2 linked regions of the Homo sapiens genome follow. Each later gene encodes a partner of the first gene's protein in a complex. Each region holds a gene or a part of one and is shown in the gene's direction. Other genes may lie near its edges.

What was found.
Region 2: the proteins of TBC1D23 (region 1) and FAM91A1 are in contact, whole or in part, in a crystal structure (PDB 8JJ9), measured with the Homo sapiens proteins. Residues at the interface, in NP_001186127.1 of Homo sapiens: Arg533, His534, Val535, Ser536, Ser537, Asp539, Val541, Gly542, Lys543, Pro544, Tyr545, Arg546, Val548, Pro550, Val551, Phe552; in NP_659400.3 of Homo sapiens: Arg49, Glu60, Arg61, Tyr64, Asp84, Ile85, Lys88, Gly89, Leu90, Arg91, Ile92, Thr93, Phe95, Ser96, Ile159, Pro161, Tyr176, Ile177, Thr178, Glu179, Asp181, Ile182, Lys190, Asp194, Ile197, Asp198, Tyr216, Asn217, Lys218, Gly219.

Annotation. Positions count from the first base shown.
Region 1 is NC_000003.12:100,291,968-100,299,276, forward strand, and holds part of TBC1D23 (TBC1 domain family member 23), read left to right. Parts: intron 1-2,877; exon of another isoform or gene 2,878-2,959; coding exon of another isoform or gene 2,960-2,995; intron 2,996-3,119; coding exon 3,120-3,244; intron 3,245-3,334; coding exon 3,335-3,381; intron 3,382-4,204; coding exon 4,205-4,308; intron 4,309-5,955; coding exon 5,956-6,078; intron 6,079-7,271; coding exon 7,272-7,309. UniProt on the Homo sapiens protein: Putative Rab GTPase-activating protein which plays a role in vesicular trafficking. Involved in endosome-to-Golgi trafficking.
Region 2 is NC_000008.11:123,813,374-123,816,196, forward strand, and holds the end of FAM91A1 (protein FAM91A1), read left to right. Parts: 3' UTR 1-2,079; downstream 2,080-2,823. UniProt on the Homo sapiens protein: As component of the WDR11 complex acts together with TBC1D23 to facilitate the golgin-mediated capture of vesicles generated using AP-1.

The DNA of each region.
Region 1 (7,309 bases):
ATGGCCAGGCTGGTCTCGAACTCCTAACCTCAGGTGATCTGCTCACTTCAGCCTCCCAAAGTGCTGGGATTACAGGCCTGAGCCACCACACCTGGCCCTTATTTCAATCTGTGATAATATCACATATCATGTAGGCGTTGGAAAATTCTATTGTTCATTTTCGAGGGAATATATATGCAAAAGGCAGGTAAATTCTACATATTTGTGTAACAATAGTTTTGACCTTACAGATCCTTTGTAAAGAATCCTGGGGACTTCTACGAGGTCCCCAGACCACACTTCTGGTTAACTGCTGCTCTTCTGGTTAACTTGAGATCTTTCTAAAACAATGATTGGGTCCTAGGAGACTATATGTTCATATCCTTTTATTATGTATTACTTAACTTTTCTTCAGGAAGAATCCCATTTCTTCCCATTATTAACTGTGTGATCTAAGACAGCCTCTGAGCTTCAATTCCTCATCTGCAAAGTGGAAATAATAGTACTGTACCTACTTCAGAGGATGATAGGATGAGTTAACAATCAGGAAATGGGTAATTGGAGAATTCTAACTGGTTTCACTTCTGGGCTCATTAAATCTCAAACCTCAGTAACCTGTTCTTTAATTCCCTCTTGGCCACAGTCTTGTCAGTTTTTTGTTTTTGTTTTTGAGACGAGGTCTTGCTCTGGTCTCTCAGGCTGCAGTGCAGTGGCACAGTCTTGGCTCACTGCAAGCTCCACCTCCTGGGCTCAAGTGATTCTCCCACCTCAGCCTCCTGAGTAGCTGGGACCACAGGCATGCACCACCACACTTGGCTAATGTTTTAATTTTTTTGTAGAGTCAAGGTCTCACCATATTGCCTGAGCTGGTCTCAATCTCCTGGGCTCAAGCAATCCTCTCACGCAGGCCTCCCAAAGTGCAGGGATTACAGGTGTGAGCCAAGCCTAGTCTTGTCAAAACTGTAGCTTCTCTGAGATTCATATGTTGCCACTGAATCTACCTATTTATGTTAAGGTAGTAAACTATTTTTCTTAGGCATTTTAATAATAGAGGTCTCTCTGCCTAGGAAATGCCATTTCTGATGCCAGAGCTCTGAATTCGTGCTGATAGCTGGAGGTTTAAACTGAGTGGTTTCTCTTCAGCTGATATGCCAGATAGTTTGTTTGTTTGTTTGTTTGTTTACTTATTTATTTATTTATTTATTTTGTGAGACGGAGTCTCTTTCACCCAGACTGGAGTGCAGTGGCATGATCTTGGCTCACTGCAAGCTCCGCCTCCTGGGTTCACGCCATTCTTCTGCCTCAGCCTCCCGAGTAGTTGGCACTGCAGGCGCCCGCCACCACACCCGGCTAATTTTTTGTATTTTTATTAGAGATGGGATTTCACCATGTTAGCCAGGATGGTCTCGATCTCCTGACCTCGTGATCCACCCGCCTCGGCCTCCCAAAGTGCTGGGATTACAGGCGTGAGCCACTGTGCCTGGCCTCAGATAGTTTACTCTTGCTACTAGTATCATGTTGATGAAATAGAGTTTTTTAAGTATCATGAGATGAAACAATTAAAAAGTAATTCCTAAACCACTGTGAGCAATGCAGTGGTAACTTTCGTTGAGCTAAGTGAGCTTAAAGATGACTGTGTATTGCTATTCTGTTTGTATGTACCTCTTCTAATCTGTGTTTGTAATCGTAATTTTTAAAGCAACCACAAAAAACATTAGTAGCATTATGTATTTTAAAAGCCTTGTGGTCAAGTGTGATGGCAATTACATGGGCTGTGGAATCTCAGGCTTTTTTCTGTTCCCAACACCACTCACTAGCTCTGTGAGCTTGAGAAAGTAAAGTAATCCAAGTTCCTCGCCTGAAAAAAATGGGGAGTAATTGAAATCTACTTTCTCACCTGTAAAATGGGGAGAAATGTGTTTACTTTCCAGGCCTGTTTTGAGAATTTAAATCAGAGATATTTTTAATGATACGTGATAATAGTTTAGTATTAGCTTAGTATTGCACACCTGTTGTGAGAATTTAAGTAAGAGATATTTTTAATGGTATGTGATAATAGTTTAGTATTAGCTTAGTATTGCACAAAGAGTGCACTAAATATATGTGTTCCCGTTAATTCTCTTTAGCTGTTAAAAATTTTTTAAATTTAAACTTGTAGATGGAATTATTTCTGTATCTAATGAAAGTTGAATGATCTAAAAATATTACTTCATGCAACTTAAAACACAGTTGGGCTGTAGAGTTGCTTATAAATTAACAACTCTTAGCTCCTGAAATTTATTGAAGGATATGAATGTTATTTATTTTTTTTTGTGTTTATTTTTTTTTTTTTGAGACAGAGTCTCACTCTGTCACCCAGGCTGGAGTGCAGTGGTGAGATCTCTTCTCACTGCAACCTCTGCCTCCCAGGTTCAAGTGATTCTCCTGCCTCAGCCTCCCAAGTAGCTGGGACTACAGACACGTGCCATCATGCCTGGCTAATTTTTGTATTTTTAGTAGAGACGGGGTTTCACTATGTTGGCCAGGTTGGTCTCAAACTCCTGACCTCAGGTGATCCACCCACCTTGGCCTCCTAAAGTGTTGGGTTTACAGGTGTGAGCCACTGCGCCCGGCCTAATCTCTTTCAAGTGATGTACAAGTGAGCTTTGGGAGCAATTCATATTTATATTATGATTAAAGTTTTATTAGCTGCTCTTAAATTACCACGTTTGATCCTCACAATTACCTTGTAATTTAAATACTGTGCTGTTATTATATTGTAATTATTTTAGTTACTCTTATGGAGCTCAGACCATAATTATGCTAGTTATGCTATGGCAAAGATATGTGCTAGTTACTTTAGGTATTCTTTTCACAATAATAGTAGAAGATGGGTAGCATTATTCCTCTTTTTTACAGAAGTAAAAATGGAAGCTTTAAAGAGGTTGACATGTCCTAAGTCACACAGTTAATATGTGGCTCCATTGTCCCTTGAATTCACATGTTTTGCCTTTGGATTTCATACACTAAGATTAAGGTACGCATTAAATATCAGGTGCAGATAATTTGATATAATGTTTCTTATTCATTTGCTTTAATACTTTTAAGAGAACAAGTCACCTCCAGTGGTTTATGTCTCTCATTTCATTTCCTGATTACAGCTTGGAAGTCTTTTTGCATGTTACTGTTCCACTGAAGTCACTCAGGCAATATGGGATGGATATCTACAACAAGCAGATCCATTTTTTATTTATTTCTTAATGTTAATTATCCTTGTTAATGCAAAGTAAGTATCTGGTTGGTTAGATTTTTTTTCCTCTTTTCTCAGGGTGCTCTGTTAATATTTAACTCAAATTGATTTGATTCCCTTTTACAGAGAAGTTATTTTAACACAAGAGTCAGACAGCAAAGAAGAAGTTATCAGTAAGTATCATTTAATGTAGTGAAAACATTTCAGGTCTCTTTATCTGTGTAAGTTACTCAGTTTCCTCATTCGTAAATTTAGGAGATTAGTCTAGAAGAGCTCTGAGGCTCCATTCAACTCTCAGATTATATAAACACTCTCCAGGTACAGACCTTAAAGACTATTTTCCTTTATTTTGCCATCTTCATTCATTCCTTCATATTTGTTCACTCTTTCATTCCTTTCCATATACTATTTCATTAGTTTCACTGTTCGAATAGATTGCCCTCCTCTGTTCCTCCCTACCCATCCTTAATTTACCTTTCAATACTCAGTTTATATGATATTTCAATTGTGAAACCTTGGTTCTCCTTTTGGATTCTCCCCACCATATCCCCCACATAGAGATAGTTACTTCCTCTCTATATTCCCTGGCACTTTGTTCTATCTGTATAACAATGTTTATCTTACTGTATTATAATGATTTATTTTTATTTTTTCACACAAGACAAAGTTCTTTAAGTCAGTAACTATTTCTTAGGCATTTTTTATGTTCAGGGGCCTTGGCATTTCTTCATATATGTTTAATAAATAAATCATAGAATTCTAATTAAGGTTAATGAATTTGATTTGATTGCCTGACACTATCCTTCACTGACAAGAGATTTACATTAGCCGTTTCAGCTCATTTGGAGAAATCCACTTTTCCACAAGTCATTGTAAAAGCACCAGTGTTGAGACTCCATTTGCATAGTATTTATGATGAAGATATTTCGGCTCTGATACATAAACAATATTTGCATTTTTCACAAACTACTAAATATTATGTCTATAATATTTCAGAGTTCTTGGAAAATACTCCATCCAGTCTGAATATAGAAGATATAGAAGACCTTTTCTCTCTGGCTCAGTATTATTGCAGCAAAACACCGGCTTCTTTTAGGAAGGTATAAGACCAGAAATGACCAACTATGTTGTATTTCATATTTTGTACATTGTTTTATTACTTTATATTCACTTTAGTTAAAATAGGTTGTCAATTTTTTCTGTTTCTTTATGTGTTGTAGTTTTGTGTGATTTTTTTTTTTCATCTCTGTAAATACCCTCCCTAGTGGAGGAACAGACAAGTTAAAAAGATAGTAGAACGCATCTTACCTCTCTTCTGATTATTGTTATTTCTGATCATAAGAAAATTGACTGAGATATTTTCTAAATTAGTGCTTTCTTGACTTTAAAAATTATATTACAGGGCCGGGCGTGGTGGCTCACGCCTGTAATCCCAGCACTTTGGGAGGCCAAGGTGGGTGGATCACGAGGTCGGGAGATCGAGACCATCCTGGCTAACACGGTGAAACCCTATCTTTACTAAGAAATACAAAAAATTAGCCGGGCGTGGTGGTGGGCGCCTGTAGTCCCAGCTACTCGGGAGGCTGAGGAAGGAGAATGGCGTGAACCCAGGAGGCGGAGTTTGCAGTGAGCTGAGATTGTGCCACTGCACTCCAGCCTGGGCGACAGAGTGAAGACTCTGTCTCAAAAAAAAAAAAAAAAAAATTATATTACAGTAGTAATCCAGTGGAGGAGGTAGAGTTTTGCCACTTTTCTCTGGAGTTCAGGCTTGTATAGTCTTAATAATGCTGAGCTGTCTTATAAAGAAAGGTCATTTAGGCCCCGTAAAGACTTAGATCCTTAGACCAGACAGATGCCTAATAAAGGACACCAGATTAGAAGTATGAGTGATGTGAACTCCTGAAAAATGAAACTCTAAGAAGCAAAAGCTAATAGTGGAAGAGGCACAAGTTTATAAAGCAGACAGGTTTGTATGTGACTTCAGGTGCCCATGAGAGCACCTTTTTTTTTAAAGCATTCTGCCATAATAATTTCTAGTTGGTACTCATCGTGTCACTGAAGTGTCAAGATAAAGTTAAGTTATGTTTAGTATACTGTGTTTTAGAAAGCAGGTAAAGGAAACCTTTTAAGATCATTTTCCCTCAAAAATAACTAATTTAAAAAGACTTATTTCTAGGGACCAGTTTCAACTATTTTAATAATTTTCTTATATAGAACTCTTCAGTTCCTAACAATGCTGTATAAGTCAGATGGTAGGATAGTAGTTTAAAATACTGAATGAAAAAGAAGTCTTATTTTTTTTCTTATTCAAGAGCTGCACCTTTTATTCTTCAGACATAGTGAAACTGTACTAGCAGTTGTGAATTAGAGCAGGCTGTGGATCAGTATTTTAACTCATTTATGCAATAGATTTCTGCCACATATTTGTTTTTATTAAGATATGAAAAATTGTAAGTAACCATTTTTAAAGTTCAATATTAACTACAGGTGGTAGTATAGAAAATAGCTATTTAGAATGTGTTTTTTTTTTCTTAGTCTTTCATTTTGTATGAACACTGACAGGGACTTTATGTGACATTTTTGTAGTTCTTAGCCTATAAAATTTGAGATTATGTAGTATTAAGTTTTAAAAAATCACAACTCAAGAGTATTATAATTTTACCTTTTATCATGGTTTAATAAGAATATTTTTAGGAAGAAAGTTTGATTTTTTTTTTCATAATGTTTAAAAATTTCCCTTCAAACAGGATAATCACCATCTCTTTGGTAGTACTTTGTTGGGAATTAAGGATGATGATGCAGATCTGAGTCAGGCTCTTTGTCTGGCCATCTCCGTGTCAGAGATCCTTCAAGCGAATCAGCTACAAGGGGTAAGTAAAGGAAACCCAGTTTGTTAGGGGACTGTTCATTTTAAATACAAGGAACCAACTTCCTCCCTGTTCATTGATTCCCACAAAATCAATTTACTGCAACAAGGTGGCTCTTTTGGCTTTTTGAATGATTGTGTTAAATGTTATGTTCAGAGGGTCATTTTAAAACTTGTCAGCTTGTGTGGTGTTTTAATTGTCTACAATTAATTATTGTTGACATTCTTGACACCAGTTTTTGTAAATCGCCGTATCTTTTTTCCATATTTCAGTAGAGCAACTGAATGTGGCATTGTATAAAATACTTTTAAAAGGGTGAATTTAGCATTTAACAGTTTCTGGTAGTTTACAGCTAATTGAATTACATGGTTTAGTTCCATACAACTTATAGCAAAGGAGAATTGTGAAAATGAAATTTTCTTCATGAAAATCTAATAAGTCAATTTGACCAATGATGTTTTTAATATATGGTCTTTATTACTAGTAGTGCAGCAGTTAACCATGGTGTGTATTTGGAAGGTGTAGTGTATTTCCAAGGTTGAGGGCAGGAAAGGAATGGACGTGGGAAAATAGCCTTTTATGGTAGATCTTTCTTAGTTGGATTTCTTACTGTATCTGCGCTGGTTATTGAGGATTTTCAAAATACAAGCATCTCACTTTTTTCTTATTCAAACTAATATTTAAAAACAAATGAAAACATGTTATCCAGTTTAAAGAGATCCATGTGAACTTCTTTAGTTGAAACTGGTATTTCAGAACATTCTCCCTTCATCCCCCCACACGAAATAGATGTTTAGTTCTTACGTGAATTGAGCTGTTGATAAATTTGCAGATTTATTTGCAAAAAAGAATAGCATATCTAGAGTTGTGTTTATAACTATATAGCGTTTTATAATTAGTTTTATAATTAATTATAATTAGTTTTATAGCTCAAACAGACACTCTCCTTCTATGTATTTTAAGACTTTCCAGTAAAGAACAACATCTAAAAAAGAAAAATGTTTTAACTGTTTAAAAGAAATAAAAGTATTTAGGACCTTCGGGTTATTTTCTGTGCTAACTAGGTCCTCCCAATTCCATGTGAGATCCATTTTTTAATGAACTTGTTCCCTTTATTTGGTTAACTGTGAATATTATGTTGTGCAATGTGAACCTCATGGGAAATTCCTGTATGTCAAATGTTGTTTCCGTTTTAGGAAGGAGTCCGGTTCTTTGTGGTGGATTGCCGTCCTGC
Region 2 (2,823 bases), on another chromosome or scaffold:
CACCATTTATATGTGGACTTCTGTTGTCACTGACTTTGGGCTTTATATTTTCATAGAGTCTTTATGGAAAAAATAGAATTTATTTTCCACTCTTGTAGCTATAGCTGCTGCACACTTTCACCCTGATTTATTTTTTTGTTTCTTAGCTTTGATGTTTTCAAACCAAGGATTGTGATTTTAGGTTAGAATTACATATTAGAAGCATTAAGACTATGTCTTTGGATCAGAATGCTTTAGTGATAAACCTACTTTGAAGACATACTCTTAAGCAATCTGGATCTTAAATTTATGTGAATACTTTTTTAGAAAATGATAAAGAAAAATGGAATTACTTCAAAGTGTTTCTTGAGTCATTGATTCTTTTAGCATCTCAAATGTTAATTAGAATAATTGGAATCACTTTTTAGACTTTTCAAGTTACCTTCCTTGGGAAGTTTGTGCAGTGTTATAGTTTAGTTTAGCTCCTCTTACAGGGTAATGGTTTGCTAGTTTAAAACTGTAACCAAACGAACTGGTCAGACAACATATATCTAAAACACTTAAAATGTTAGGAAGTTTGGGAATGTTATAACCTAAACGTTTTTGCTGGTAACTTTTTGTTATTTATAGATATTTGTGTATTTAACATACATACTTCAGGAAATATATGCCTTTCCTAAAACTTAACCATGCATTCAATACCATGGCCTATCTATAGAATTGAATATTTTGGACCATGTTATCTGTGGCACAGTCAGTGCTGTGTTTGAGGTAAATGCAGTAACGGTTAGTTTTCTACTTTGTCTTATAGAAGGTAGAAACCATGTGTATGTTATGTTTGTCTATAAAAGAAAAAATACTAATATTAAATAATTTCTTACGACTCTGAGTCACTCACTTATTTTTCCAATAATTGATATTGTACATTCCTAGTGCCATTAGGTATGTATGTATGTAACTTTTACAGTTTTTCAGCTGAAAGTTGTAAGTATTTTTTTTTTTTGATCGGGGCTCTTTAATCTCATTTTAATTTCCTTTGTTTGAACTGTAGTTATTTTATTTATTCCTATATTAACCATCTAAACCAACTGTAATGACATGTACACTAATACAGAATTGAACATTTGTAGTTGTTGGCAGTGAACCCAGTTGTTGGTGAATTTAAAGCTTAAAATATGGGAATGATTTGCTGCTATATTTCCTTTGAGAGAGAAAGGAGGAAGAAATAGAACCTAATAGTGATCATGAATTTTAGGGAAAGTACCGAAGAACCATGGGGTCCCCTCTGGTTTCTTGTGTTGAATGAGGCAAGGGTAATCATCTGATTCCGAGCTGAAGACCTCTGGTCCTCTTAAGGAGGGAGAGTGCATTTTTAGAGCTTTTAGCAAAATGTGAAAAGCTGATGTTTGCGCCTTGCTTTGTGAATTTGGCTTTGTTTTACTTATACATTAACTCATGTAATCTCTTAAATCTTACAAGCATTGATCCATTTCAACAAAAAGGTAAATTTAAAATGCAGACTTTGTTATTTGCCAAAGAAGATTCATGAAAAATTTACGTCCAATTATTTTGCAAATAGTTAATTTCATTTGGCTTTTTACCATGTTCCTTCCTTTCTTTTTCCCGCTTCCTTAATGTAATTTAAACCCTGGCAAACATTCTTTAGAAACCAAGAGGAAAGAAAGAACAAATATCAAAAAAGACATAGAATTTAATATTGATACAATTTCACCTCTAAAATGGATTTGAAGAAATGCAACTTTATATCAAAAAATGTCATCTGATTTCCTTTGTTTCTTTTTTAAATTATGTAATCAGATGATTTTATGTTTTTTTTTCAGGGGAGCGGAATATTGGTTTCTTTTACTTGTTGTTTTCAGTTTTCTCTGCCATTCATGTTTCTTTTTTGTGTTCAGTGTTTCAAATACAATTTGTATTTAAGGATTTTAAAATACCAAACTGTAACTGAGTACAGTGGATCGTTTTCTGTTAGGATGTTAATATTATACAATGAAATCTATAAAGTGTTGTCAATTTGATTATTGACACATATAACATGTTTACAAATAAACTGTGGTATTGATCAAGTTACTATGAAAATGTGTTTAATTTTCTGAAAGTTCCTGTCTTAATTTTAAATACAACCATGGTTTGGTGCTGTGGCTTTCCTGTACTTAAAAAAAAAAAAAACCCACAAAAAACTTAATTATTTTGTAGTAATTTCAGATTTACAGAAACTGGCAAAGATAGTCAGATGTTCCCTGTACCCTTCACTGAGCTTCCCCTAGCGTGGACACCTTCTGTAAACTATGGCAGGTCTATGAAAACTCAGAAGTTAACCCTGGTACTAGTATTTTCTAAACTGCACACTTGATTAGGCTTTTACCAGTTTTCCCACTAATGTCTTTTTGTTGTCAAGATCCAGTCCAGGATACCACATCGCATGTATTTAGTTATCAGTGTCTCATTAGTCTCCTCCAATATAACATTTTCTCGGTCTTTCATGACCTTGACACTAGAAAGAGTACCGGTCAGTTATTTTGTAAGACATCCTTCAGTGTGGGTTTGTCTGATGTTTCCTCGTGATTAGACTGAGGCTACGTTTTATCAGAAAGGGTACTACAAAGGTGATGTGCCCTTCCCCCCAGTACAACATATCTTAGGGTACATGATGTCAGTATGTATCACTGGTGATGTTTCTTTATTGGGTAAGATGGTGTTTGCTAGGTTTTTCCACTGTAGGGTACTCGCATTTCTATTGCTGGGCCTGTGTATTCCGGCTATGGAGAATACCTGGAGAGGCAGCCGCCATATGCTGGTCACTGATTCAAAGCATATACCGTA